Homo sapiens: one gene and its partners. The protein of the gene in region 4 interacts with the protein of the main gene of each other region in a biochemical or structural test. Each region holds a gene or a part of one and is shown on either strand. Other genes may lie near its edges. The genes, in order: MAST2, ADD1, PATJ, PRKCA, DLG5, SDC4 and LIMK2.

The links.
Region 1: the proteins of PRKCA (region 4) and MAST2 interact in a test that uses a peptide from one of them, tested with the Homo sapiens proteins (one large-scale study listed by IntAct).
Region 2: of the proteins of PRKCA (region 4) and ADD1, one has a biochemical effect on the other in vitro, tested with the Homo sapiens proteins (one study listed by BioGRID).
Region 3: the proteins of PRKCA (region 4) and PATJ interact in a test that uses a peptide from one of them, tested with the Homo sapiens proteins (one large-scale study listed by IntAct).
Region 5: the proteins of PRKCA (region 4) and DLG5 interact in a test that uses a peptide from one of them, tested with the Homo sapiens proteins (one large-scale study listed by IntAct).
Region 6: the proteins of PRKCA (region 4) and SDC4 form a complex in vitro, tested with the Homo sapiens proteins (one study listed by IntAct).
Region 7: the proteins of PRKCA (region 4) and LIMK2 interact in a test that uses a peptide from one of them, tested with the Homo sapiens proteins (one large-scale study listed by IntAct).

Annotation. Positions count from the first base shown.
Region 1 is NC_000001.11:46,030,135-46,034,015, forward strand, and holds part of MAST2 (microtubule-associated serine/threonine-protein kinase 2), read left to right. Parts: coding exon 1-104; intron 105-472; coding exon 473-627; intron 628-872; coding exon 873-1,156; intron 1,157-1,256; coding exon 1,257-1,451; intron 1,452-2,043; coding exon 2,044-2,270; intron 2,271-2,461; coding exon 2,462-2,584; intron 2,585-3,667; coding exon 3,668-3,804; intron 3,805-3,881. UniProt on the Homo sapiens protein: Appears to link the dystrophin/utrophin network with microtubule filaments via the syntrophins. Phosphorylation of DMD or UTRN may modulate their affinities for associated proteins. Functions in a multi-protein complex in spermatid maturation.
Region 2 is NC_000004.12:2,923,318-2,927,552, reverse strand, and holds part of ADD1 (alpha-adducin), read right to left. Parts: intron 1,540-4,235; coding exon 1,441-1,539; intron 912-1,440; coding exon of another isoform or gene 878-911; intron 1-877. UniProt on the Homo sapiens protein: Membrane-cytoskeleton-associated protein that promotes the assembly of the spectrin-actin network. Binds to calmodulin.
Region 3 is NC_000001.11:61,748,493-61,752,868, reverse strand, and holds part of PATJ (inaD-like protein), read right to left. Parts: intron 1-4,376.
Region 4 is NC_000017.11:66,802,045-66,806,420, reverse strand, and holds part of PRKCA (protein kinase C alpha type), read right to left. Parts: intron 2,549-4,376; coding exon 2,384-2,548; 3' UTR 1-2,383. UniProt on the Homo sapiens protein: Calcium-activated, phospholipid- and diacylglycerol (DAG)-dependent serine/threonine-protein kinase that is involved in positive and negative regulation of cell proliferation, apoptosis, differentiation, migration and adhesion, tumorigenesis, cardiac hypertrophy, angiogenesis, platelet function and inflammation, by directly phosphorylating targets such as RAF1, BCL2, CSPG4, TNNT2/CTNT, or activating signaling cascade involving MAPK1/3 (ERK1/2) and RAP1GAP.
Region 5 is NC_000010.11:77,821,712-77,826,087, forward strand, and holds part of DLG5 (disks large homolog 5), read right to left. Parts: intron 2,766-4,376; coding exon 2,673-2,765; intron 391-2,672; coding exon 1-390. UniProt on the Homo sapiens protein: Acts as a regulator of the Hippo signaling pathway.
Region 6 is NC_000020.11:45,327,289-45,331,482, forward strand, and holds part of SDC4 (syndecan-4 precursor), read right to left. Parts: intron 3,277-4,194; coding exon 3,078-3,276; intron 128-3,077; coding exon 1-127. UniProt on the Homo sapiens protein: Cell surface proteoglycan which regulates exosome biogenesis in concert with SDCBP and PDCD6IP.
Region 7 is NC_000022.11:31,270,939-31,275,314, reverse strand, and holds part of LIMK2 (LIM domain kinase 2), read right to left. Parts: intron 4,180-4,376; coding exon 4,114-4,179; intron 2,786-4,113; coding exon 2,611-2,785; intron 1,864-2,610; coding exon 1,808-1,863; intron 165-1,807; coding exon 7-164; intron 1-6. UniProt on the Homo sapiens protein: Serine/threonine-protein kinase that plays an essential role in the regulation of actin filament dynamics. Acts downstream of several Rho family GTPase signal transduction pathways.

The DNA of each region.
Region 1 (3,881 bases), on a different chromosome or scaffold from region 4:
CAGAGCGATACCACCACATGGACTCGGAGGATGAGGAAGAAGTGAGTGAGGATGGCTGCCTTGAGATCCGCCAGTTCTCTTCCTGCTCTCCAAGGTTCAACAAGGTGTGACTGAGGAGGCCCAGAATGGGCAGAACAGGCTGGAGGATCAGAAGAAGAGGGCCTGTCAAAGGGCACACCTGGGGCAGGCTCAGGGAGTTGGGGTTGGGGCCACCTCTAGAAAAAGAGGAGCTAAGGGTTGGGGCTACATATAGCTATATATAGGTGCTTCTAGAACCACTGCTGTCCCTGACATGAGATGCCAGGTCAGATCAGTGGAATAACTCCTTCCCCAAATATTCAGCAGGGGTGTGTGAAGGAGGGATGGAACCGACTGGTTCAAATTCCTAGGTTTCCGATGCCAAGGATGCTTTATGCCACTTGGGAGGTACGGCTGCCAGAGCCCATCCCCAGCGCATCCCCTGTGCCCACAGGTGTACAGCAGCATGGAGCGGCTCTCACTGCTCGAGGAGCGCCGGACACCACCCCCGACCAAGCGCAGCCTGAGTGAGGAGAAGGAGGACCATTCAGATGGCCTGGCAGGGCTCAAAGGCCGAGACCGGAGCTGGGTGATTGGCTCCCCTGAGATGTGAGCACCCAGAGTTCACCCAGGGTGGGCGACACAGCTATCCCTGCATTGTCACAGATCATGGGAGAGATTCCGATGCCAGGGAGGAGTGCAGGTGGCAGGGAGGGGGCATTCACAAGGGTGGCTCCTGGAGGAATGTCTGCGGAGGAAAGTTCTGTTACTATAACCCTTGTGTGCCCCTAAGGAGACCTGGCAGGAGGAGGGGGACCACCTGGGTCACTCACCCCAGGCCTTGTGTCTCATAGATTACGGAAGCGGCTGTCGGTGTCTGAGTCATCCCACACAGAGAGTGACTCAAGCCCTCCAATGACAGTGCGACGCCGCTGCTCAGGCCTCCTGGATGCGCCTCGGTTCCCGGAGGGCCCTGAGGAGGCCAGCAGCACCCTCAGGAGGCAACCACAGGAGGGTATATGGGTCCTGACACCCCCATCTGGAGAGGGGGTATCTGGGCCTGTCACTGAACACTCAGGGGAGCAGCGGCCAAAGCTGGATGAGGAAGCTGTTGGCCGGAGCAGTGGTTCCAGTCCAGGTATGGCCCAGTGGGCGGCCAAACGACCTAAGCTGGAGGATACTGCAGGGCAGGGAGGCTCAGCGGCATCGCGGGTCTCACTGCTTACTTGGGCCTACAGCTATGGAGACCCGAGGCCGTGGGACCTCACAGCTGGCTGAGGGAGCCACAGCCAAGGCCATCAGTGACCTGGCTGTGCGTAGGGCCCGCCACCGGCTGCTCTCTGGGGACTCAACAGAGAAGCGCACTGCTCGCCCTGTCAACAAAGTGATCAAGTCCGCCTCAGCCACAGCCCTCTCACTCCTCATTCCTTCGGGTGAGGCCCCTGGGGAGCTGGGATAAAACTCACAGGAAGGGCCTTGTAATCTCTAGGCCTTGGGAGGGTTCTGCACGTGGCAGGTGTGTGTGTGTGTGTTAAGCACAGATCTGACTGTGGTCTCTGAAGGTGTGTATTGGTGTCTGGGGTTGTGTATACATGTGCCAGAAAGCAGGACAGCACCATGTCACAAGTGCAGGCTTTGGGGTAGAGAGCTCACACTCAAATCCTGGCTCCATCACTAACAGGCTCTTGACCTTGAGCAAGTTGCTTAACTTCTCTAAGCCTCAAGTTTCTTATCCAAAAATGTGGATATAATAGAGGCCAGCTGATAGGTTGTGACATTTAAATATATATGACAAGCTTATATAGTCCCTGATACACACATAAATGCTAGCTGCCATTTCTCATCACCACCACCGTCTCTTGGGGTCTGGACACGGGAGAGGGCTTCACAGGTCAGGGGCTGTGGGGAAAATGGACCTAGGCTCAGGCTCTGTCTGTGACTAGAGTTGTGCTGACATCAACAGACTGGACCAGGGGCCAGGCCAAAGCCCTCTGACCCACTAAGTCCTGGCTTCTCCTTCTCCAGAACACCACACCTGCTCCCCGTTGGCCAGCCCCATGTCCCCACATTCTCAGTCGTCCAACCCATCATCCCGGGACTCTTCTCCAAGCAGGGACTTCTTGCCAGCCCTTGGCAGCATGAGGCCTCCCATCATCATCCACCGAGCTGGCAAGAAGTATGGCTTCACCCTGCGGGCCATTCGCGTCTACATGGGTGACTCCGATGTCTACACCGTGCACCATATGGTGTGGGTATGTCTGACCATCCAGACCTGCTGTCTCCCTGCTTCATCATCCTTCCAGCTTCCCCTTTGTGGAGCCCATCTGTCCCTGCTCGGGGGTCAAAGGGTGGTGGTGAAGGGGCTCACAGCTTAATGTCCAGAACCAGGCCCCATACTTCGTGTTCAGGCTCCAGTCTGAGTACTGTTCTCTTCCTGGCACAGCACGTGGAGGATGGAGGTCCGGCCAGTGAGGCAGGGCTTCGTCAAGGTGACCTCATCACCCATGTCAATGGGGAACCTGTGCATGGCCTGGTGCACACGGAGGTGGTAGAGCTGATCCTGAAGGTTAGTGCTGGGCGTGCTGCCTGCATGGTCCCTGAATGACCTCAGCCTGTGAGTCTGTGATGGCAGTTAGGGGAGTGGGTGAGTTGGGTGCACACACATCTACACCGAGTATGGATGTAGGTACACACAGGCCGGGCGCGGTGGCTCATGCCTGTAAATCCCAACACTTTAGGAGGCTGAGGCAGGTGGATCACTTGAGACCAGAAGTTTGAGACCAGCCTAGCCAACATGGTGAAACCCTGCCTCTACTAAAAATACAAAAAAAAAAAAAAAAAAATGCCTGGGTGTGGTGGCTCACGCCTGTAATCCCAGCACTTTGGGAGGCCGAGGCGGGTGGATCACCTGTGGTCAGGAGTTTGAGACCAGCCTGCCCAGCATGGCAAAACTCTACTAAAAATAACAAAAATTAGCCAAGCGTGGTGGTAGGCACTTGTAATCCCGGCTACTCGGGAGGCTGAGGAAGGAGAATTGCTTGAACCTGGAAGGCAGTTTGCAGTGAGCTGAGGTCATACCACTGCACTCCAGCTTGGGAGACACAGCAAGACTCTGTTTCCAAAAAAAAAAAAAAAAATTAGCCGAGTGTGGTAGCACATGCCTGTAATCCCAGCTACTTGGGAGGCTGAGGCAGGAGAAGTGCTTGAACCCAGGAGGCAGAGGTTGCAGTGAGCTGAGATCGCACCACTGCACTCCAGCCTGGGTGACAGAGTGAGACTCTGTCTTAAAAAAAAAAAAAAAAGATGTAGGTACACACAGAACTTGAATGTGGCACAACAGAGAGTTTTCTCCACAAGGCAGTACCCTCCCTGACTAAGGCCCAGGGATCCTTCTGAGCTGTGGGTAGGGCTGCAGAATGGGACGGATTAGCCTGTTTTCTACCTTCTTACCCCAAACCACTCTGGGGCTCCAATGGGAGCCATTTCCTCATCTGTAAAAACAATAATATAGGCCTGTGGTTCAGATGTGTTGGTGCAGGGACAAAAAGCTGGAGCTGTGGTATAGCCATGCCAGAAGGGAAGGATTGGGGGAGGGGAGGGGCAAGAATATGGCTCCAGCTTAGCCTAGGCCTCATGCTCTGCTCCCCAGAGTGGAAACAAGGTGGCCATTTCAACAACTCCCCTGGAGAACACATCCATTAAAGTGGGGCCAGCTCGGAAGGGCAGCTACAAGGCCAAGATGGCCCGAAGGAGCAAGAGGAGCCGCGGCAAGGATGGGCAAGAAAGGTGAGCCAGGCGCAGTGAAGAGGGTTTTCTCTGAGCCACATGAGTGCTGGTACGTGGTGGGTGCCTTGGCCCTGGGG
Region 2 (4,235 bases), on a different chromosome or scaffold from region 4:
GGACACAGCCTGGGGGCGCCTTCCTTGCACTTACCCGGGCACCCGCTCTGTCCATTCGTAAACGGCCTACAAAGTTACCAGCAACTGACAGGTTAGGCACCACAAGCTGTTTAGTGTTTAAAAATCAAGCCACACATCAGGGCCAGGGGAGTCAGCTGAGTGGTTAGGAGCAGCACAGGAGGCCCAGGCCCCAAACTCTCAGTGCTTTACCTTTGGGAAGCTGGAAGCACCCCCACCCTGCCAGCTGCCCCAGGCTAATTCCAGGCCACGCTTCATGAGAACCGGGAAAGGGCTATGGGCACACAGGCGCCGCTCCCCCTGAGGAGATGGGGCCCGCTCTGCTGGGCATGGTGTGGCTGATGCTAGGACGGAGGCTGCCCCAGGGCACTCGCTCTGGAGAGCTGCCATCATCTGAGTGAACATCACACTGCTTTACGAGGGTCCAATATCCGCTCCTCTGCCCACCTCCTTTGGACCAGCTTCAGCAAAGGTCCAAGGCAATCTGACCCCACACGGCAGGTGGCAGAACCCCACCCTGTCTGAACCGAGGCTGCACTTACATCTGATCCAGTGTGGCAAAACCCTCCCACCAAGCAATCCAAAGAGACCCTCAAAGGCTGGAGGTAGGAACTCCTGAGGCCCAGAGTGCTCCATGGCACCTAGGTGCGTGGAGGTACCCGCTGCCGCTGAAGGCAGCACAGCACTCAGGTGACTGAACCACTTCCAGGAAGGCCTCCAAGGGACTGGGTACAAAAAAGGGGGGCTTCTGTTTTTATTTTAAATAAACAGAAAACAAAACTTAATAAACAACAAAGAAGCAGGAGAATGAGGCAAAGCGCAGGGCACCGGTGGAGAGCGGAGGCAGCACGGTACTTACTAGGGTAACAGGTACTCTCTAGCGCATCCGTCTCCTGCTTGTGACGCAGCCACAGGGAGAAAAAAGCACAAGGAGAGAATCTATGCATTCAGTCACAGCCATCAGGTTACAGAAGAAGAAAGGCAGGGCCACGGGCTTCACGAGAGACATGGATGTACGAGACCGAGGGACAGACACCCGGGATCACACACCACAGACACACGGTGGCTGAGAGGCAGCCGGCGTGTGGCTCACACAGCGGAGGGCACCTCCGAAGGTGGCATCTGCATGACAACACGGCACGAGGAGTGTGCGAGCAATGGGCAACGTGGACACCAGCAACCATGGTGGGTTCCGACCCCCGAGGCCGGCCTTCCTACCTGGTCACAGCTCACATACAAATCTGTTTTGCCTGGAGTTACCCAGGACAGAAGCAATATAGGAGGAGAAAGGTGTCACGTCCTGGCGCTGATGCAAGCACACACTTCCGTGTTGCTGTTAACACGACTCCCGCCACATTCCGCCACAGCGCGCACGAGCCGTGCACCCTCCCACAGTGGCGGCCGCTGCCACCCAGAGCTCACCTTCCTCCAGCTTGATGGGAGTGCTGGGAGGCGGGTGGGGGACCGCAGGCTGGTCTGGAGGACTCTTTTCTTTCTGTTCTCTAGCCTCGTCCAGATTCTCTGCAGAGAAGCAAGAAGGATATGGTAGGAGCTGTGGACGCCACGCCATGAGCCTGTACCTGCCTCCATGGCAGATGGGGCAGCCCGCTCGGCCGCCCTCTGAGAAGGCAGGGCTCTCTCAACCCTTTCCCTGATCCTCTCCAAGAGAGGATAAAGGAAGCTGTGACCTGGGTGTTGACTGATGCGAATTTCAGAGAAACTTAACCAACTTCAGATACAAAACTTATTTCTATTCTTATTCCAAAGAGAGTCTGCCAGAGCCACTTCTGTGATGGACTCGAATGGTATGCCCTGGCCTGTCCCCCGCTGTCCTGTGCGAGTAGGGACCCCTCCCTCCCTGCCTTCTCCCTGCTGAGCAGGTGGCTGAGGGTCCTGAACCCACTCACCACCTTAAGGGACATCACATGAGCATTATTTTGGTTTTAATTCTGTGGTAGGGCATTTTATCCCAATAATTTAAACTTGGCAACTGTAATACGTATTTTTACTTTTTAAAGTGAAAAATGCTAATAAGAACCAGAGGAAAAAATGCAGGAACTAGGATCCTGGATATAGAAAAGGATTCCAAGTCTACTTCTCATTTCGGGGAAAATATGGACCAGCACTATTCTAACTCCTTCCATCTCTGTCTTTATTTCAGAAGTTTAAGATTAATAGCTTAGGATCAGCAGGTCCGTATTTTGAACCAGCAGCTATCATCATCCTTCTGAGCTCCCAGGGCCTCTGCTCCCACCCTAACAGCTGGCTCGCCTCCCCAAGTACCACGTTGGCAGCTACCTTCCAGAAGCCAGGTGTCCATAAAAAGGCCGCCATACCACCTAGCTGAGTGAGCATACAGCCTCAACCGGGAAAAGGTGCTGACCTCTGGCAGCCAGCCTGCATTTTACCTGTGGCACATTCTCCCCTCAGCCCATGCCAAGGGCCAGATCAGACCTCCTGTGGGTTCTCCTGCTGACAGCTCTGTGATCACAGAGCACGGCCAGAGCCTGTCCCCATCCACTCAGCTGCCATCACAGCCCTGCTGAAGGAGCCTCACACATCGGGGGGAAACTCCACATATCTTGTTTGACTTGTTTTTAAAAACAATCCAGGTTACTCAGATCCCAGGAGACTCCAAAGGGCAGACACATGTCTGTGTACATGTGCACAGAAACTAGGAGGAGGCCACATGACCCACAGCTCAAGCTGACTACCTCCAGTTCTCGCTCTAAGGCAGGTAATTACAGCAATGGCTCAGACAAAGCTTCACTGGAGGGAGACAACCAGCAGCAGGGCCTGGTGTGTGTGGCGGCCTGAATAGTAAATAGCGGTGTGACACTGAAAAACAATTCAGCAACTCAAATTTCAGTCACAACTACGTAATGCAGTGGCTGGTCTAGAACGAGACAAAAACCGGTGAAGAGGTCCTCTTAGGAGGAGTGCCTAGCTCCCAGGATGACGACGGCCCAGGAGAGCAACAGTCAGTCCCACACAACAAGGTGGCTCCAGCAAGGCTGACCCCGGAGGACTGAGAAGCACACTGAGGTTTCAGTAAAAACCTGAGTTGGAGCTTACGGCCCTGAGGATGCTGGCGGGAGCCTCCTGGCAGGGGTCCCTGTGCCCCTGGTTCTTCTTGGTGCCAGCACCAAGGCTGCTCAGAGCCTAGTGGACAAGAGAGCTGGCAGCAGGGAGCTTGGGGGAAAAGCAGCTGATGCCCAAAAGCCCTCAAGGAATAGGCTTTGGAGACCTGCTTCTCTCATTAGTTCTCAACATTTCCTTTTCAAAGCCTGACATTTGAAACCACCTGCTCCGTGAGGGTCTCAAACTTGAGCCGCTTATTTGTATTCATTTTAAGACTGCCCCATCTTTGACAAAAACAAGACCGCCTTTGTCAGCGGGCTACCAAGAGAAGTACAGGCTGCACCAGCCATTCCTGATGGGACCTGGGCACATGCCAGGGCAGTCAGCATTTTCACCCTCCGGCCTGTGACCACACCTGCACAGGAAACCCTCAAGGTTTATGGAGAAAGAGAATTTCTGTCAGAAACCCCAAGCCCTACACACAAGCACAGTAAGGACGTTCAGAGCGTCCCCCTGCACAGAGGCCGGGGCTGACTGCTGTGACCAAAGACTCAGTGAGGAAGGCAGTGCGCTTCTGTCCAAATCAGGGCTCGGCCACGCACAACCTCGTTCTCGCGAGCCGCCCTGTCTGAGCTCCCTATTCCTCTGCTCCAGCCGGGGGAAAATGACCTATCTCTCAGGGTTACTTTGAGAATGAGATGAGATGTACGCACAATAGCACTGGGCATGTGCCCGGCACAATGACTGCTCAGCAATGCTGAGTGTTAATGAATCAAACTGAGTAAAGGAGGTCTCTCCCCGGTGAAGCTTCAACAGACAGAAATACTGTGTTCGTAAAGAGACAAATGTCAGGGTGACAGGCAACATGGCCGAATAGGAACAGCTCCGATCTGCAGCTCCCAGTGAGATCAACGCAGAAGGTGGATGATTTCTGCATTTCCAACTGAGGTACCTGGCTCATCTCCCTGGGACTGGTTAGACAGTGGGTGCAGCCCACGGAGGGCGAGCCAAAGCAGGGTGGGGTGTTGCCTCACCCAGGAAGTGCAAGGAGTCGGGGAACTCCCTCATCTAGCCAAGGGAAGCCATGAGGGACTGTGGCTTGAGAAACAGTGCATTCCAGCTCAAATACTACGCTT
Region 3 (4,376 bases), on a different chromosome or scaffold from region 4:
AATACTATATTTTGGACCACTATATCCCTGGAATTTGGGAAACATATATAAATTCCAGAACAATCCTGACAGTTTGCAGATATATGCTTAAGCCTAAGCAATGTTTAAATCCTCCTGACAGTGAACATTCAGGAAATGTTGAAATTGAAGTTGAAAGACACCACTTTAAATTCAGAATCTGAAATTAAAACTTGTGAATAGTGCTTCAATGAACATAAATAAATTTTTTAAAAAAGAAATGAAGGCCAGGCGCGGTGGCTCACCCCTGTAATCCCAGCACTTCGGGAGGCCGAGGCGGGCACAAGGGAGGCCTTGGACCACAAGGGCAGGAGTTTGAGACCAGCCTGGCCAACGTGGTGAAAACCCGCCTCTACTGAAAATACAAGAATTAGCCAGGTGTGGTGACAGATGCCTGTAATCCCAGCTACTCAGGAGTCTGAGGCAGAAGAATCGCTTGAACCTGGGAGGCAGAGGTTGCAGTGAGCCAAGATTGTGCCATTGCACTCCAGCCTGGGTGACAGAGCAAGACTCCGTCTTAAAAAAAAAAAAAAAAAAAAGAAAGAAATGAAAAGAGTCAGTTTTTCAGAATAATTCAGTTAACTCATGCTAATTTTCTCATTAAACTATTCAAAGTTAACCAATGCATATCAATACTCTTCCTATAACTTGGCCACTTTTGTAGGAACAAAGTTAAACTGCTATATGGTAGGCTTCTTTTTTTTTTTTTTTTGAGATGATGTTTTGCTCCTGTTGCGCAGGCTGGAGTACAATGGAGAGATCTTGGCTCACCACAACCTCTGCCTCCCGGGTTCAGGCGATTCTCCTGCCTCAACTTCCTGAGTAGCTGGGATTACAGGTATGACCCACCACGCTGGGCTAATTTTGTATTTTTAGTAGAGATAAGATTTTTCCATGTTAATCAGACTGGTCTGAAACTCCCAACTTCAGGTGATCCACCCGCCTCGGCCTCCCAAAGTGCTGGGATTACAGGCATGAGCCACCACGCCCGGCCTTTTTTATTTTATTATTATTATTATTTTTTTGAGACAGGGTCTCACTCTGTTGCCCATGCTGGAGTGCAGTGGTGCGGTCTTGGCTCACTGCAACCTCCACCTCCAGGGTTCAAGCAATCCTCCTGCCTCAGCCTCCCTAGTAGCTGAGACTACAGGTATGCACCACCATACCTGGCTAATTTTTGTATTTTTAGTAAAGGCAGGGTTTTACCATGTTGGTCAGGCTGGTCTTACACTCCTGTCCTCAGATGATCTGCCTGCCTTGGCCTCCCAAAGTGCTGGGATTACAGGCTAGAGACAATGCACCCAGTCTATGGTAGGCTTCTGTATTCTGGTTGGTAGCAGTTTTCTCCAACGAGCAACAATGACAAAAAAAATCTGGGCAATTTTCACACTTAGAGGTCTCTGATCATGTAGCCAGTCCCCACTAAAAAGACCTGGGCATTCATACTATTCACTAATGATTAGTTTCCACCTCAAAAATGCTATTCAATTTTACCCGCACTGCCGACTGTACACTCCCAGCTTCTCCCCAGAAATTATGGTCATATCAGGAATCAGGCGTGGTGGCTCACGCCTGTACTCCCAGCACTTTGGGAGGCCAAGGAGACGGATCACTTGAGGCCAGGAGTTTGAGACCAGCCTGGCCAACATTGTGAAACCCCGTCTCCACTAAAAATACAAAAATTAGCCAGGTGTCATTGTGCACACCTGTAATCCCAGCTATTCGGGAGGCTGAGGCAGGAGAATCACTTGAATCCATGAGGCAGACATTGCAGTGAGTGGAGATCGCACCACTGCACTCCAGCCTGGGCAACAGAGTGTGAGACTCCATCTCAAAAAAAAAAAAAAAAGTAAAATAAAATAGAAAAGGGAAAGGGATACTATGAAAAAAGGTAAAAACAAAGCAAGGAAACATAGATGCCATTGGAGAGAGTTAATTCCATGGGGAAGGGGTTCAACTGTTAGTGACCTTTCAGTAGATAACTACTTTAAAAATGAGAATACTTCAAATTTTAAATGGTGGGAAGATTTACAACCTGACCCTCAACATTCACTTATCTCCCTCTTCTACCACACTACGTCCTGGAACTTCATTACAAGCGCCGAAAAATGGGTCGGGCGTGGTGGCTCATGCTTGTATCCCAGCACTTTGGGAGGCCGAGGCAGGCAGAACACCTGAGGTTGGGAGTTCAAGACCAGCCTGACAAACATGGAGAAACCCCCGTCTCTACTCAAAATACAAAAATATTAGCCAGGCATGGTCGCGGGCACCTGTAATCCCAGCTACTCAGTAGTAATAGTACCAGGAGAATCACCCGAACCCGGGAGGCAGAGGTTGTGGTGAGCCGAGACCACACCATTGCACTCCAGCCTGGGCAAAAATAGAGAAACTCCATCTCAAAAAAAAAAAAAAAAAGCTCCAGAAAATAACCCCAAGGGATACCAGGCAGAAGCCCTGCCCACCAGCCCCTATTGTCAAAGCAACATCCACTAATTATTATTAATGGAAGCTAAAGTGAAATGAAACTGACCTGTCCCTGAAAGCCCACAGACCCAGGCCTAAAAGCCATCTACCAAACCAAGCAAGGTGTGCAAAGGGTCAAAGCAAGGGCAGGACCTTGGTCTGCTTTGGTTCTAAGAGTACAACCTACATTAGAGAATGTTCATCTCACAGTGGTTCCACTAACTTCTTTGAACTATGAGGCAGCTTCCCAAGTGCAAGCAATCAATACAGACAAAATTCAAATGTGAAATTCTTAAAACACACATTGTCCTGGTTTACAATATTACTGTTCAGCAGGTTTTTAAACTTTATATAAATTACATCATACTGTATACTTATTCTTCAGCAACTTGCTATTTTAAGCTCAACTTTACATTTTTAAGATTTATTCATCTGTTATCCCAGCACTTTGGGAGGCCAAGGCAGGCAGATCACTTGAGCCCCAGTTTGAGACCAGCCTGGGCAACATGGCAAGACCCCATCTTGACAAAAAAATTTAAAAATTAGCCAGCTGTGGTGGCACACACCTGTACTCCCAGCTACTCAGGAGACTGAGGTGGGAGGATCAGTTGAGCCCAGGATGTCTAGGCTGCAGTGAGCCATGATCACACCACTGCACTCCATAGCCTGGGCAACAGAGTGAGACCCTGTCTCCAAAAAAAAAAACACCAGGCTGCGGTGAGGGGTGTTATTCATGATGATATAGGCAGTTCCTGCTCAGCCACTGTAACAACTAAGTAACATTCGATGGTAGGAATACATACTTTCTTCACCCAATCTCCTGTTGACGAGAATTTAGATCATTTCCTATTGGTCACTAATACAAAAACAGGATTAGAACTAAATGTGTACTTCAATAATCAACTTTTTGCCAGTTGATTCAATAGCCAATTATTGAAATATGGGAAATTCTATAGCCTATGAGCTTTGAAATCAGAGACTCAGGGTTTATCCCTAGGACCCGCTCTGTAGGCCAATTGTTTAAATCTCCCTACACCTCAGTCCCCTTGTTTGTAAAAAAGAGTTAATAAAAATTACTTCATGGCTGGGTGTGGTGGCTCACGCCTGCAATCCCAGCACTTTCAGAGGCTGAGGCGGGTGGATCACGAGGTCAGGAGTTCGAGACCAGCCTGGCCAACATGGTGAAACCCCTGTCTCTAATAAAAATGCAACAAGAGCAAAACTCTGTTTAAAAAAAAAAAAAAAATAGCTGGGCGTGGTGGCGGGCACCTGAATCCCAGCTACTTGGGAGGCTGAGGCAGAAGAATTGCTTGAACCCAGGAGATGGAGGTTGCAGTGAGCCAAGATGGTGCCACAGCACTGCAGCCTGGGCAACTCCATCTCAGGAGAAAAAAAAGAAAAAAAAAATTACTTCATATGTATACTGCAAACACTAAAGAGGATAATTTAGAGCATTTGGCCTAGCACATGGTACACATTCAACAAATGATAACTACTATTAGCATCTCTTTTCAATCAAAATGATTTAAAACATGGCAAAACCCCATCTCTACAAAAACAAAAACTAGCTGAGCGTGGTGGTGCGTGCCGGTGCGTGCCTGTAGTCCAGGCTGAGGTGGGAGGAACCCTTGTGCCCAGGGGGTCAGGGCTAGTGAACCATGATCATGGCACTGCAAAAGCTAATAATTAAATTATTGTAGCAGAGATTTTAGTGTGTAATCAGTAAGTTAGTTCTGAGAAGACTGAAAAATAAAATGTTTCACCACTGTAGTGAGTATAAGGGAGGAGGTTATAGAGAGGACCTATAATTTGGAGTATTAATCCATTTACATGGCCAGGCGCAGTGGCTCACGCCTGTAATCACAGCACTTTGGGAGGCTGAGGCGGGCGTATCA
Region 4 (4,376 bases):
GGGGAGCCAGGACCCCCTGGAGTCTCGATGTCTATGGTGCATAAAAGATGGCAGAAGAAATGGTTCTTTTCTGGCCGGGCCCGTTCCCTACCCCGTCTCTCCTTCTACTCAGGGTTGCCAGGACCACCTGGGCCTCTCACCTCAAAAAGCCTTTCATGGTTGTGTGTTCTGTGAACTTCAGGCAAACAGCCAGAGGAGAAAAATAATGCGAGCTTAGCTGGGAGATGCTTCTGGGAGGAAACAGAGCGGCTCTCTACAAGGACTGACAGCTACTTTCATTCTGTTTCTGTTTGTGGTAGAACCCGGCTACTCTGAGGACCTTGCATGGGGGTGTCTCACCAAAGCAGCGCGCTCCTCCCAAGACTGGAAAGGCCAATGCCACAATGGCTGGAAGAAAGTCCGCAGCCTCTGAAAAGCACGTGCTGGTGCCTGCAGGGCACGGCTGTGTTGGTCTCACGAAGTTTGTGCATGCTGGAGCAAACGACAGGTCGTTGCAGAGGCAGCAAGACAGCATGCTTCCTGCGTGTCCAGTACACACAGCAAGAGGGGAGTCTCCCCATCCCTCCCACCCCTGGAGTCAGCAACAGTCACAGGCTGAAGGGAAGAAGGAAACACACACACACGCACACACAAAGGTCAGCCCAGGTGCTGCGGCAATGCCACGTGTGTACCAACGTACTAGGCAGACTGGAATCAGACACTTCCTGTTGTCCCCAAGAGGAAGAGTGGCGGAGGAACCAGGACGAAAGGTGACATGAAGAAACTAAGAGGGAGTGTCAGCTCAAAAATAGTCCTCACCAATAAAAATTTGTTTGCAGGTAGAATCAAATACATATATATACACACACATATGTAGTAAGAGCCTAATCTATCACGTAAACTAGCCATTCATTTTTGAAATTTTATCTACATTTAAAAAGTAATCTATCTGATACAGTGCCCATGTGCAGGGAGGGAAAGCACAGAAGCAAGGGATTCAGCTAAAACTTAATTAGAAAAGAGGATTAGAAACAAGAACCTGCACAAATAGAGCACAATTGTGTCTTATAAAATTATTATAATACTCTCTTTATACTTGATACGATTATATCAATAATATAGATTCACTTGTTATTAAGGTTTATTATAAACATGCAAAATTCATTGCATGATGCATTTGCAAAACGTATTAAAATCCTTCTATTAACAAAACATCTTTGAGCTGTTAGGCATCCGGGTTTCCTGATTCTACAGCTCCAGGCCTGTCATTCAACGTGAACTAGAAATGGGAACCAAAACCATATTCTTTTTATCCCTAAGTGGACATCCAGGGCTAGAGAAGGGAGGAAAATCAATCGGTAGAGGCTGATGCTAGAGTCAGCACTTCCATTAAGTTACTGTACATCGTACTTTCATAAGCGACACTGCAGCCTATTAAATAAATAAGCACAAAAGGGGAGAGGGCGTACACTTCAGCTTCTTGAGAAGGATAACAAGGTAGGCAGCAAAATGTTGGTGTGTGTGGGGGTGGGTGTTGGTGAACAACACTGGTGAGTAGTGGCATGATTACTGATGGCACCCTGGATGGAAAAATAATCTCCCAGAGATTAAAATGAACATATGTACACACTGGCTTATCCTTGATCTGAAATGATTTCACACGCTTGTTCAGCAACGTCCTTAGACGATTTGGCCTCTTACAAAGAATGAAAAGTATCAAGACAGTTATCAACCAAGGAGGGTACCAGATGACAGATTCACCCAACACTCATCTGAGGTTTTTTTGTTTAAACTGGTAACTGCTGGACCATGGTTGGGTTAGGATTTGTCAATGTTTGGGAACAGTGATTAGGTTTATCCCGGCCTTTCAGATTCTAGGGGCTGTTTCCATGGAGGCAGAGAATGGACGCAGTCGGTATTTTGAGGCCTCCCCCACCCCCAATCCCTCCCTGCTCACTCTCTTGGCTTCCTGTTCTTGGATTCCAAAGACGTCTTGGGTGGAGATGTTTCCTGGGACAGGCTCACTTTAACATCTCTGGTTGGGGGATTCCAATGCTGAAAAATCCACAGATGGAGGGTATGGAAAGTATATCAAATTGTACCCAAAATGGGGCAACAGTCTGCTTGCTTTCTAGGAAGGGTTAACCTAGAGCCAGACGTAACTTCTACAGAATTAAACTGGACACTGAGCATGACGTACCATCTTCCACTAAGATAATGTTCTTGGTTGTAAGAGAGAGACCCTGAACAGTTGATCACATTTGGACTAATAACCCTACAATTTTCAGGCCTCCATATGGAATCAGACACAAGGCCGTGGCCTTAAAATTTTAGGGTTAAGGATTCACTTCCCACTGCGGGGAGGGCTGGGGGCTGGGGAGGTGTTTGTTCTCGCTGGTGAGTTTCATACTGCACTCTGTAAGATGGGGTGCACAAACTGGGGGTTGACATACGAGAACCCTTCAAAATCAGACTGGTCTATGTTAGCAATAACCAGCTGATCAGGTGGTGTTAAGACGGGCTGTCCTCGTGTGAAGAACTTGTCAAAGTTCTCTGCTCCTTTGCCACACTGTGGAGAAAAGACAAAAAGAAGGAAAGGTCAGTCAACATGACAATGCGGGAGCAGCTCTCCGAGGGCCCTCTCTGGGGAGGGGCACGGCCCTGGGGAACTCCGGGCTGGTTAGGAGGAGGAATCTCGGAGGACTTGCAGGCCTATTGGATTGAAAAGCCAGGCACAGCAGACAACAACGAGTTACCCAACTGTAAACCCTGAAACACCCCGAACAGAAGCCCTGGGTGGGAATTGCACGGCTGGCAATGAGGCAGCAACAAGGGGACAGCCCCTGTCCCCTCACGTCCACCTCACCGAGCAAGCGGAGCTGAGAGCACGGAAGCCACGCACGCAGGGCCGTCAGTCACAGCTCCGTGTTGAAAGGCCAGGATGTCGGCTGGGGCTGCAGGCAGTTACCCCTGGACCAAGCGACGGGGTGAGTTACTGCCCCACATCTGTTTTTTTGCCGCAATATTTGTAGTGAAGTAAAAACTGTGTTATCCTTGCCTTCCTACTGGGCTGCTCCAGCAACCCCAGCCCCTAAATTAAGCTTCAAGCGATATGAGGTAGGTGTGGCGGCAAGGCTGGGAGATTTGCACCTGGCCCAGCTAGGATTTAGCACACCTAGACAGAGCTGGCCAGCGGGCAGGCTGGGTGACTGACTGGAGCTTATTTGCAGGGTGGTCTCAGGCTGGAGGATGTTTGCATGGCGCCCTGGGGAGGCAGGGAGAGGCCTGCTGTCTCGGCTGTTCCTCTCCTCCAGGGTCCACTCCAGGCAGAACTGTTGCACTGGGGTCGCTGAGACACACAGCCGCTTAGGCAGCACGGCTTGGTAGCCTGACCCCAAAAGTGGGGAAGGAGTGTTCTCTTCACCTTGTCAGCCACCCACAAGGGTAGTGGCGTGTTGAAGTCCCCGGGAGCCCAGGGTGACTCTGAAGCAGGAAGAGCTGGGAGTTTCACTAAGGATCCTAAGAATGATTTTCAAGATGCTGCCAATTACTGCCCTTGGACCTGCTGCTAGCACCACAGGGCCAATATGAATTAACTCTGAGCTAGCACACATTTCAAACTAACCAGGCATCCTTGGGTCTCTAACAGAGAATAGCTCTGGATTAACTGTGAAGTGGGGTCCACCAAGTTTGCTCATCTGTAACACTGGGAGAACAATCACACCTCCTGCCCAAGGCTGTCAGGAAGGTGAAATGTATGGGGTTTTGCACAGAACCCAGCCGAGGCGAGAGGCCAGCACGTGCTGCTAGTGTTTTTATAAGGCAGTTGAGTCTCACGGGCTGTGCTTTCTCAGCTCTTTTTTCACACTTTATCTTCTAGGAGGTGTGCTTGAGAACCTACTTTCGTTTTTTTTTTTGAGATGGAGTCTTGCTCTGTCGCCCAGACTAGAGTGCAGTGGCGTGACCTCGGCTCACTGTAACCTCTGCCTCCTGGGTTCAAGTGATTCTCCTGCCTCAGCCTCCCGAGTAGCTGGGATTACAGGCATGAGCCACCACGCCCAGCGACGAAGCTACTTTCATTACCCTTTTCCCACCTACTTTTCATCAAATAAAACCTGCTCCTAAGTACCTGTTGAGGTGGAAAGCATGTCATAAATTCAAAGTAAGGTCTTTATGACAAACAGCTTTCCTTTCTGGGCTTATTAATTTTTTTTTCTTTTTTGAGACAGGGTCTCACTCTGTCACCCAGGCTGGTGTGCAGTGGTGGGAGCACGACTCACTGCAGCCTCAACACCTGAGCTCAACCGTTCCTCCCACCTCAGCCTCCTGAGTAGCTGGGACTGCGGGTGCGCACCACCACACCTGACTATTTTTTGCATTTTTTGTATTGACAGGGT
Region 5 (4,376 bases), on a different chromosome or scaffold from region 4:
GCCCACCTCGGTCTCAAAGGGCAGCAGTGGCCGCCGGCCACGCACGTCCACCAGCCCAAAGCCACGGTCCCCAGAGGCATCTGAGCGGAAGGAGCTCAGGCTACGCTCAGAGGCACTGGGACAGGCCTGGGGGCAGACCTGCAAGGGTCCCCCAGGGAATGGCTTATGCAGAAAGGAGCTGCTGCCTCCTGGGGGGCCTGGCTCCTTCCTGTCTTCCAGCCTGTCCGTGTAGAAGATGTCTGTCTGCGTGGAGTTATTGTGCTGTATCAAGTTCCGTTTGTTATGAGCCTGGACCTCCGGGCCATGGGCTCGAAAACTCAGCATCTTATCAGAGTCTTTGATATTTTCAAAAATGTTCTGGCCACTCCACGAGGAGCTCTGAGGGAATACCTAGGCAGGGATTGCAGAGGAGTGAGAGAGAGAGTGAGATGGCAGGACTTGGAGCTGCCACTGAAAACCATCCCCAGAGGTAAAGCAATGGTCAGGAATGGGCCACCTGCCCCTTAAAAAAGAGACAGATAGACAGAGATGCACACACACATGAACACATATGCTTCTCCCTAATGGATAAGTTTTCTCATGGCTCTGGTCACTCTGAACTCAAAGAAGAGTCAAAGTTTTCTTAACTTTGAACACTTTCTGAAATTATCTGGGCCGGGCACAGTGGCTCATGCCTGTAATCCCAGCGCTTTGGTAGGCTGAGGCAGGCGGGTCACGAGGTCAGGAGTTCGAGACCAGCCTGACCGATATGGTGAAACCCCATCTATACAAAAATTACAAAAATAAGCCAGGCACGGTGGCATGCACCTGTAGTCCCAGCTACTTGGGAGGCTGAGGCAGGAGAATCGCTTGAACCCGGAGGTGGAGGTTGCAGTGAACTAAGATCACGCCACTGCACTCCAGTCTGGGCGACACAATGAGACTCTGTCTCAAAAAGAAGGAAATTACCTGCATAATGTCTTGAATATTTTTTTTAAATATTAAACATAAAAGTAAAAATTCATTGTTAAAAATATATCTCTTGTGGTACACCCAGACAACGGAATATAAATTAGCACTAAAAAGAACTGAAACAACGTGCAGGAACCTTAAGTGTATATTAGCAAATGAAGAAGCCATTCTATACACTCTGTGATTCCAACTCTATGGCATTCTGGAAAACACAAAAGCATGGAGGCAGTAAAAGGATCAGTTGTTGCCAGGGGCTTGCATAAATATGGGGAGCATAGGGAATTTTTAGAGCAGTGAAACTACTCTGTATGATATTACAATGGTAGTACATGTCATCACCTGCATCAAAACTCACAGAAAATACACCAAGACTGAACCTTAATGTAAACTATGCATTATAGTTAATACTAATGCATCCACATTGGCTCACTAATTATAACGCATGTACTAACTACACTAACGCAAAATGCCAAAATTGGGGAAACTTGGGGACAGGAGTGGGGATGGTGGTGATGGGGTGGTTGAGAGAGTGCTAAGAATTCTGTATCAGCCCAACTTTTCTGTAAACATAAAACTGCTTCCAAAAAAGTCAAATAATTTGAAAATAGTTAATTTAGAAAACATCTCTTAATAGAAAGTTAGAAAAAATAGGCCCAGCCATTTCATTAAGAGATGTTTTCTAAATTCGGCCTATTTTTTCTAACTTCCTATTATTAAACTTTTCAAATATGTAGAAAAGTATAATAAATGTCCATAAATGTACCATCTAGATTCAAAAATATTTCACTAAATTGTCTTTTTGTCTATAATGATACTACAGAACACTGGAAAGCAAGTTACAAATATCATGACATGTCACTTCCCTTCCTTTTTTTTTTTTTTTTTGAGACAGAGGTTCGCTCTTATTGCCCAGGCTGGAGTGCAAAGGCGTGATCTCAGCTCACTGCAACCTCCGCCTCCTGGGTTCAAGCGATTCTCCTGCCTCAGTCTCCTGAGTAGCTGGGATTACAGGAATGCACCATCACATCCGGCTATTTTTGTATTTTTAGTAGAGACGGGGTTTCTCCATGTTGGTCAAGGCTGGTCTCGAACTCCCGACCTCAGGTGATCCACCCGCCTCCCAAAGTGCTGGGATTACAGGCATGAGCCATTGCACCCAGCTTCTTCCTTTCATTTTTGAGATAGGGTCTCACTTTGTCACCCAGGCTGGAGTGCAGTGGCACAATCACAACTCACTGCCACCTCGACCTCCCAGGCTTTTTGTATTTTCTGTAGAGGCAAGGTCTCGCTGTGTTGCTGGGCTCAAGTGATTCGACTGCCTTGGCCTCCCAAAGTGTTGGGGTTACAGGCATGAGCAACCATGCCCGGCCATGACACATCACTTCTAACAACTTTAGCTTGTACCTCCCCCAAATAAAGCCATTCTCCTGTATAACAACCCCAATGCCATCATCATACCTAGGAAAACTGGCAACAATTCCCTAAGATCATCTAATTATCGGGTCCAGATTCAAATGTACCCAACTGTGCCCAACATGGCCTTGACTGCTGTTTTTTGATTTCAGACCAGCGTCCAGTCAGGGTTCCTGCCCCCTCTGCACTCAGTAAATGCCCACCCTGTTCTCAAGGATCCTGTGACCCCAAGGAGTAGCATGGCTATGTGGAGCCGGGGCTCTGCCCATACTCCTGACCGTGAGAGCAGAGCCAGGTCCAGCCCTTACCTTCAGGAGGGACAGGGTCAGGGAGTCCTGGCAGCTGCGCAGCAGAGATTCACATTCATTCAGAGACTTGTTGTCCAGTGCAATGCCATTGATCTAGAGCAGGACAGAGAGCATGTCAGGCCACAGGCAGAGCGGCCTCAGGCCTACCAGTCAGGATCTCTGCCTACCTAACCTCCTGTGCTAGACAGTCACCAAATGCAAGGTGCCAAAGTCAGGAGTTGGCAAAGGATAGAGGTCTTTCTGGTGAGGCCCAAGGAGTCCAACTAAGGGGATTCTGAGGTAGAGGAACACATAAGCCTTCACAGCAGGCTAGGGGAGGAGCATGTCCTTCTGGGATCAGAACACCGAGGACCCGGAGGGAACATCTTGGCACTGCTGTGCCCGGCCATGTGGCGTGGGACCTTGGCTCAGAACTTCCCAGCTCCTTGCCTCCACAGAGGAAATGGAAGATAAATACATGCATGTGGCTCGGGAGAGCGGGGGACTAAAAACAAGACCATGGATAGGAAAGGCCTTGTAGAGAAAGTACCACGCGAAGTGGGGCCCTGTGAGTGTTCACAAAGAACCTCTCAACCCTGCTCCCGGAATCTCTGCTCACAGCTATGTGCAGACCTTCTTAAGAAGTATATGTGCAACCGGTGAATGACCAAACTGTGATACACCCACATTGCAGAACACTGCTCAGCAACGATAAGTAACAAGCAGCCAGCACACGCAGCCTCTTGGGTGGATCTTGCAGGCATGGTGCGGAATCAAAACAGCCCAGCTCCAAAGGTCACATACTATATGATTCCATGTCTGTAACATTCTCAAAAGGACAACATCACAGAGATGGAGAAAAAATCAGCTGCCAGGGGGCAGGGATGGGAGGGAGCAGGGGGTGTTACTACAAATGGGCAGTGGGAGGGAGACCTCAGTGCTGATAGAACAGCTACGTATCTTCATTACGGTGGTGGTTACACAGAACAACATGTGTTTAACCACACACAACCACACACACACACACACACACACACACACACACACACACACAGTACCAATGTCAATATGCTAGCTTTGATATTATACTCATGCAAGGTGCAACCATGAGGGGAAGCAGGGAGAAGAGTACATAGGACCCCCCTGTACTATCTCTGCAGCTTCCTATGAATCTATAATCATTTCAAAGTCAAGTTTTCTTTTTTTTTTTTGAGATGGAGTCTCGCTCTGTCCCTCAGGCTGAAGTGCAGAGGCATGATCTCGGCTCGCTGCAACCTCCGCCTCCCAGGTTCAAGCAATTCTCCTATCTCAGTCTCCCGAGTAGCTGGGATTACAGATGTATGCCTCCATGCCCGGCTAATATTTTTGTATTTTAGTAGAGATGGGGTTTCATTGTGTTGCCCAGGCTGGTCTCGAACCCCTGAACTAAGGCAATCCACCCGCCTCGGCCTCCCAAAGTGCTAGGATTACAGGCGTGAGCCACCATGCCCGGCCAGTCAAGTTTTCTTTTTAAAATATCTGCAGAGTGATTATCTGGAAGTAGTAAATTAATTTGTGGTTTTTTCCTTATAACATATCCACATTTAAAAAATTTTCATAGTGGCCATATAGCTTTTACACTCTGGCTCCCCAAAAAATCTGAAAAACATTGGCAAAGATGTGAGGCAATGAGTTCCCCCACACACTGCAGGGAGGACTGCAAAAGCCATGACCTTTTTGGAGCAA
Region 6 (4,194 bases), on a different chromosome or scaffold from region 4:
GCTTTCTTGTAGATGGGTTTCTTGCCCAGGTCATAGCTGCCTTCATCCTTCTTCTTCATACGGTACATGAGCAGTAGGATCAGGAAGACGGCAAAGAGGATGCCCACGATGCCACCCACAATCAGAGCTGGAGAGGAGGAGAGAGAAGAGGCGGGGGTGAGAGCTCCTCATCAGGACCTAAGGATGAACCCCTCTTTCCCCCACTGTCAGTTCTCTTACAACCAGACATCCTCACCATCACCACTGCCTGTGCCAGGCAAGCTGATGCCTTATTTAAGTTGACCTCATGACCCCAGTTATAAGAAGTGGGTCGTTGGCATTTTAAGTCACTGAAGACCACAGGGCTAGTGGTAAGGCCACTCCTTTTTCTTTTTGAGACGAAGTCTCACTCTGTTGCCCGAGCTGAGTGCAGTGGCGTGATCTCGGCTTACTGCAACCTCCACCTCCCAGGTTCAAGCAATTCTCCTGCCTCAGCCTCCTGAGTAGCTGGGATTATAGGCACGTGCCACCATGCCCGGCTAATTTTTGTATTTTTAGTAGAGATAGGGTTTCACTATGTTGGCCAGGCTGGTCTTGAACTCCTGACCTTGCCCATCTCGGCCTCCCAAAGTGCTGGGATTACAGGCGTGAGCCACCGCACTCGGCCAAGGCCACTATTTTAACCCACATCTGCCTGAATCTAAAGCCTAGGCTCTTTCCAAACACCACGCGGACTCCCCTGCAACAGTCTAGCACTAACTGAACCAGGAACAGGAGAAAACCGTAGGCTATGGAAATCCCTGTAGACATATTTATCCTGCAGTCCTTAGCACAGGGCACTCTCTAGCTCTCCCTGTGTGCATATTTACCTATATAGCCTACACTTCATAGACAGGTATGTACATTCAAAGTGCACACATGCAGAACATACTAATTCCAAACTCTTATGTTACAATTACATACAGAACTCAGTAGCTAAGGCCTGGTTTCCACTCCTACCTCTCCTACTTCCTGGCTGTGTGATTTGGGGCAAGTTTCCTTCATCTCCCTACCGCAAAATGGGAAGAGCCATACCTTTCTCATACATTTGTCCTAAGGATTAAATAAATTAATCCACTCAAAGTGCTTAGAACAATGCCTAGTGCATAGCATATTCTCAAGATTCATTAACTGTAAGGGTTTAAGGTTTATATCTGTGTCCCGAACCCCCTGAATCAGGTGTGCACAACAGGAGGTGCTTAATAAATGATACTTTCAGGCTCCGAGAGGAGAACCTGCCTAGTGTTGGGCAGAGATGGGCTTCTAACAGTGAGTGGGTCTGGCCTGTCCACTCTGCCAGGTGGCCTGAATGACTCATTCCTGTTTGCTAGGGGCAGGGATGCTTCATAGAATCCCTTCTGTGGCAGATTGAGTTCCCTAATTCGGTCTTACTCGGGCTAAGAAGATTAATTTTCCATCCCTGCACACACTACAAATCTATGTACACAATGGGGACAGAGTGGCACAGAGGAGTCAAGCAAGGTTCTTTCTTGGGTAAAATCCTATGAAAAAGCAACAAAAAAGTACCCCCAGGAGGTGCCAGAGCAAGCACATGGAATATCAGGCATCAACCCCATTCTTGTCTCTATCACCTTTCCCTCTGATGACCCCAGTTCCTCCACGAGGCCCTGGGTCTGCGCTGGGATGCCCCACAGGGTCAAGTTTCAAGCACAGGCTCAGAAGCTGACTGTGGTCCTCAGTCCAAATGCCAGGTCTGCCACTTCCAGCTTTGTGACTTCGGATAAGTTCTTTAGACTGAGTTTTGTGTTGTACGGACTCAATCAGGGGCACAGGAATCATACAGCATACAGCAAGCATTTAATAAGGCTCCTGGGTGCTGATTAAAGCTTCTGGAATGGGGGATTCCACCACACCAGCTAACAATATAACTTTTCACATGAGGCTCTTAGGCTTGTATAATTCTCAAATGGAAGATTAAAGAGATAACCTGGCTTCAGTTCTTTTCTTACTATGTGGCCTAAAGCCTGGGCCTCAGTCTCCCCATGTATAAGAAGCAGGTGCTTAGATTAATCAGTGGTTTTCAAATTTTTCTTTAGAAGCAATAGCACCTTTAGTTAATTAGAGCAAAACCTTATGCAAATCCAAAGTCTTATGCAAATCTTTTTACTTCTGAAAGAAAAGTAAAAAGAACTTTGGCTCAGATACCAGGAAGCCAGGGTCAGGGCTGAGGTGGGCCCAGTCATCAGGGGCTGTGCTCCCAGGAACCCTCTTTACAAGAGGCAGGTGAGACCTTCCATCTGTCCTGGATGAAGCCAGGCTCTGTCCCTATAGCTCAAGCCTCCTTGGAGCTGCTGGCTCTGTTGATTCCCAGGAGACAGGAGTTACCCAGCATGGGCCCAGGGTGCCCACTTGCCAGGCCGGTTCATCCAGGCTGGCCCTCGGCCATGACCTTGGGGAGTTCCCTCCATCCCTTTTGTCAACACCTGGGACAAAGCATTCCTCACCGCACATTCCAGTAAAGAACTCTCAACTGAGGCCAAATCGGAATAGCCCTTTATAGTGTGCAAAGTTATTTCATATTTTATTTTTCATGGACTCATTATATCAACCCCAGAAGGTATCACTGTACCCATTTTACAGATAAGGAAACTGAGGCTCATCAAGTTCGAAAGCTTCTCAGCCAAGGTCACAAGGCTGCCAAGTGATAGAGTAGGGGGAGGGGAAGCTAACCCAATTCGAAGGAGCCTCCAGACTTACAAGGGAAATTAACTTTTAATGATTAACTCCCAGATGCCAAACTTATACAGTGAAAGTCCTTTGCAAAATAAATGAGAAAGACTTAAGGCAGAAGAATGACTCAATGCCTATTTTCCAGAAGACTTTGATAGGTGCTTTTTCCTCTCCCTCCACCAGGCTGCACAGTCAGAGCCACCCCATAAGGAAGGTGTAGTCTTTCAATGTTCTAGGGCAACCTGAATAGGCAAAAGGAAGGGGCACCAAGGAGCCTCATGGCTGGAGGCATCCCTGCCTGCAGGTGCTCTCCCCCGCTGAGCCCCATTCCACCTTCAAGGCATCTTATAAGCAGCATGGGGACTTACCTGCCAGGACCTCCGTTCTCTCAAAGATGTTGCTGCCCTGCACAGTGCTGGACATTGACACCTTGTTGGACACATCCTCACTCTCTTCAACGGGTGAGATTCTCTTGGGGATAACCTCATTCTCCTCTAGTTTCTTGGGTTCGGTGGGGACTTGGCTCCCAGACCCTGCCCTCTCAGGGATATGGTTATCTAGAGGCACCTGGATGGGCGGAAAGGAGAAGAGACACTCAGCGTATTTTGGAAGAGACTCAGGGCAGGGGACAGGGACATTCAGCCAGGCAGAGAATCTGGTTCTGCCATATTCAGCTGAACCATATGGTCCTGGAGCAGGAATTGGCAACACTGTCTCCACAATTATGCTGCCAAAATCCTTATCCCCAACTTTTTTAGTATATCTGTCCCAAATGAAAAATGAATGCACCCAAGGGAACAGGGAAGCAGGTGCTCTCCTGCACTGCTGGCCACTGGTTATTCTAGAGCAACCACTCTGGAAGCAATTTGGCAAAACCTTAGACATCGCTTGCCCTTTAAGGTGGCAGTTTTGCCCTGGAAACTCTATTGTAAGGAGCTCTTCAGAGACTACGTGTAAAAGATGCTTGCTGCAGCTCCTCTGCCTATGAAGTAGCCATTCTTTTATTCCTTTACTGTCTTAATAAACTTGCTTTCACTTTACTCTATGGACTCACCCTGAATTCTACCTTGTGCAAGATCCAAGAACCCTCTCCCTTGGGGTCTGGATCGGGACCCCTTTCTGGTAACATCTTTCTGGAGAACCACAGAAGGGATGAGACGGAGGAGACTCCCGAATCAAAGGAAATGGACTGCAGCACTGATTGGAGGACTTTGGATATCACCTTTTGTCAGAACTAAGAGTTATGAATGGCCCTCACCATACTGGCCCTTTCTGACTGAACCCCTCTCTACCATGGATACAAGAGGCCCTAATAGTTAAGCAGGAATATCATCACCCTATTCAGCATGAAGAAGTTATAGAAGATGGATCTTTGTCCCTCTGCAACCCTTAGGATTAAGGGTTTTCTTACAAAAGGGAGGGGGAAAATGTCAGGTGTTTGAACCAGAGTGCCTACATCTTGAATAGGGGCTGGGTAAAATAAGG
Region 7 (4,376 bases), on a different chromosome or scaffold from region 4:
ACCAACCTGCTCTCAGGCTCCAGTCTGCAGCAGATGGCGGCCAGCGGGAAGAAGGCCGGGGGACAATCTGTGGGAACAAACTTCTCCCAGAAAAGCTTCACGTTGAGGCCAAAGTCCAGTGTTCGGGGAAGGCAGTCAGGATCTGCATACACCTGCCCAATGATCTGTAGGGTAAGAAGACAGCTGTTTACAAAGGACTACAGAGGCCACAGATACTTGGCAAGGGAAAGGGATGCTGGGATGTGGACAGGAAGAATGGCAGAAGAGGAGGTGGTAAAATAGGTTAGAGAGCTCTCCCCAATCCCCAATCATCTCTCCAAATCTTACTAATCCAGACCTGTATCCACTGAGAGCTGGGTTACTGAAGAGGACTAAGAAGGGGCTTCACTGCAGAAGCCAAGTGTTCCAAATCAGCATCTGCTCCTAGCTTCCACTCATCCTACCCTGCCTTGTCTGTGTCTCCTTGTGGCTGTGTGTGTGTGCCAGAGTTAAGGCTCTATGAGGTGCTGGATCTGATTCATGTCTGAAACCCTCTGGCACCAGCCCAGTGCTCTGAACAGAGGTGTTCAATTAATATTAAAGAAAACAATTTTTTAAAACAAATCTTCCTTCATGGCCAGGCACGGTAGCTCATGCCTGTAATCTCAGCACTTTGGGAGGCTGAAGCGGGTGGATCACCTGAGGTCAGGCATTTGAGACCAGCCTGGCCAATATGGCGAAACCCTGTCTCTACTGAAAATACAAAAATTAGCCAGGCGTGGTGGCGCACACCTGTAGTCCCAGCTACTTGGGAGGCTGAGGCAGGAGGATTGCTTGAACCTGGGAGGCGGAGGCTGCAGTGAGCCAAGATTGCACCTCTGCACTCCAGCCTGGGTGACAGAGTGAAACTCCATCTCAAAAACAAAAACAAAAACAAAACATTCCTTCATTATCCTAACCATCCCTTGTCTCTCCTCTCCTCTACCCCTCACAACTTTGTAGGAATTACAGAAGGCTTTGAATGTGTGTGTGTTTGAGTCGCTGAGATATGCTGTCACCTGACTAAACTCCTAAAGGTAGGAATCTTTCCAAGATTCCTCACTCTGTCCACGTGGTACCTGGCACAGGGCTGACACTTCCTAGAGTGGCTACTTCTACTTGAAGGGAACTGAGAAGGGCTACATTTGGCCCAAGAGCTAGCTAGACAGCCACATGAACAGTCTCTTGCCCTTCCTTCTGGAATTCTGAGTCTCATCTGCCCCTTATCGACCATGTGCAAGCCACTGCCCTCTTCCAAGCCTCAGTTTCCTCAACTAAAAAAAAAAAAAAAAAAACCTGGCCGGGCGAGGTAGCTCACGCCTATTAATTCCAGCACTTTTAGAGGCTGAGGCAGGCGGATCACCTGAGGTCCGGAGTTCAAGACCAGCCTGGCCAACATGGTGAAACCCTGTCTCTACTAAAAATACAAAAATTAGCCGGGCATGGTGGTGTGTGCCGGTAGTCCCAGCTACTTGGGAGGCTGAGGCAGGAGAATCACTTGAACCCAGAAGGCAGAGGTTGCAGTGAGCCCAGATTGTGCCACTGCACTCCAGCCTGGGCAACGAAGTGAGGCTCCATCTAAAACAAAAAAACCCTGCCAGTCCTTCTCTTAAGACCAATGAAACACGAACGTGGCAAAGATGTGCAGATGCGTTATAAACCATAAAACCCTACACCCATGTTGATTTTAGTCAAGCTAGTCATCCCTAGGAGGAGATGCCCCAGTTCCGAGGGAAGGCAGAGCTGCTAGGCCTGCTGCCTCGGGCATGGCCTTGGTGCCAGAGCTCACCTCACAGAGAACGATCCCAAAGGAGAAGATATCCACCGTCTCATCATAGCTCTTTCCTTGGGGAACACAGGAGAGCACACTGTTAAGTTTACATCCCTTACCTGCTCTGCACTGGGTCTAGGGTCAATCTAAGCCACAGCTAAGAACTAGGGCTAGAACAGGTTCTGTAGGGACACCCCACAGGCTGTCCTGCGCAGACACCACCTGAAAATAGTCCTTCCTCAGCTGTAGGTGAACTGCCTTGGAGAGCCCTTATAACATAACACTGCCTAGGATGAAACTGCACGTTAAAGTGGAAAAGAACCAGACTAGGGTTCATCTAGCCTCTGCCATTAGGCAGCTGTATGCTCCTAGGCAATTCACTGAACTTCTCTGGGCCTCAGACTCCAAAATGGATTGTATTCAGACCATTTCTGAGGCCTCACAACCCTGATTTCAAGAATCCCAACCAGCATCTCTGGTTGGTTTGAGCATTATCCACCAGAGGGCACCACACTTCAGTTCTCACCATGGAGAGAGAAGGCTAAAGCTGGGACAATAGCCTGAGCTCTTAGCGATCCCTGAGGCACAAATGCCACAGTCAGAACTCACCTTATCCCCCATGATGGGACACTGATCAGTTCCCAGCCCCCTGAGCTCAGGAGCTAAATCGTGAGGCCCCACCTGGCAAGGGAAAAATATCCTCAGCTCTGGGTATCCGGTCCTACGCTTCACAGGCCTCCCCTGGAATTCCCAGGGCTCTGATGCAAGGGCAGCATCTGTCCTCCCTCTGCGGGTGTCCCCTCCAGGGCTTCAGGACTCACCGTTCAGCATCTCAGGGGCCATCCAGTAGGGGTTTCCCACCACCGTGTAGCGCTTCTTGCGGTCGTTCTTGCGCAAGGTGCGTTTCTTGGTGGTGGCCTTCTCCATGGGGGCCCTTTTCCTCTCTTCCACTATGAGCCGTGACAGCCCAAAGTCTGCCACCACCACAGTCTTGTCCTGGTAGGATAAAAGACAGGTCAGGACTTCATGGGGATGTTCTCAAACCTGGCCCTGGGGAGGAAGCATAGGCAAGAGAAGCCACTGAGAAGGGGAGAAAAGGTGTATAGCAAGGGAGAATCAGAGCAGAAAGCTCTATCAAATAGACACACTCAGGCCAGGCACGGTGGCTTCCACCTGTAATCCCAGAACTTTGGGAGGCCAAGGCGGGTGAATCACCTGAGGTCAGGAGTTCAAGACCAGCCTGGCCAACATGGCAAAACCCCGTCTCTACTAAAAATACAAAAAAAAAAAAAAAAAAATTAGCTGGGCGTGGTGGCACACGCCTGTAGTCCTAGCTACTTGGGAGGCTGAAGCAGAAGAATCACTAGAACCCGGGAGGTAGAGGCTGCAGTAAGCCAAGATTGCACCACTGCACTCCAGCCTGGGAAACAGAATGAGACTCCATCTAAAAAACAAAACAAAACAAAACAAAAAAACAGACACACTTGGCATTTGTGTTTCTGAGGGTCTGGTATCTGTGCACAGCAGACTCCCAGCCCACAGTGGGTTCATGGCAGAGCCACTGGAGCCCTGGAGGTGAGGCTCAGGGACTTGGAGAGTGGAACTCAGAGGTGGGACAGGGGGTTGCTTTTGTTTTTCCCTGTCCTGTCTTATTCCTAAAATGATTTCAGGCAGTGGCTAGAACCAGGATAAGACAGAAAAAGGCAAGGTGGAGGCAGTAGATGGGGAGACTTGGGGGAGACAAGCTCTTTGAATAGCTACAGGGCAGTCATGTGGGAAAGGAATGAAGATTGCGTGGTGTGGGTCTAGAGGGCAGAGCCAGGGCCAGCCGGTAGACACCCAGGAAGCCAGATAGCAAGTCAGTAAGACAAACAACATTGTAACCACCACAGCTGAGGGGCAGTGGGAGGAATGCTGGTCTCAAACTGGTCCCTGTAAATTTACTAGCTCGGTGGCCTCAGGCTGAGGCTTCAGGTGCCACCACTGTAAAATGGGGTCAGCAATGAACTGTTTTACAAGACTACTATGGGGCAAAAGCAGGTAAAATGACAGGGTTTTCTACATATAGTCAACAAACTTCTGAAGTCCCTTCTAATCAAATTATTTCAAAGGTTGCTAATGAGAGAAGGTGAAATTATGTCTGTGTGTGTCTCGGAGCTCCCAGAGGACAGAGAAGGGCATTGGAAGAAGCAGGAAGGGAAAGATAGGAGCTCCTAGGCAACACCTCTGCCCTCTAGCCAGAGGGGACAAGTCAGCCTCCTTTGTGACAAGGAAGCCAGGAAGGATAGGACCCTGGAGGCCAGGCCCAGAGCAGTGGGACATACCAACTTGATGAGGCAGTTGTGCGAGTTCAGATCCCGGTGGATGATGCACATAGAGTGCAAATAGGCCTGGAACAGAAGCATGAGCTGAGGCTACAGGGCCAGCAAATCAACTAGACCCTGAATCTGGAATTGGGCGCCATAGATGCTCTCCTACCAGGCCATGCCCACCCAGCTTCAGAACCCAACCTGGACAACAGGGCCAGGGCCTCCTATGGCCTCTCCCTTGTCCCAATACCAACAGGAAGCCTGGACTTCCTCTGCTT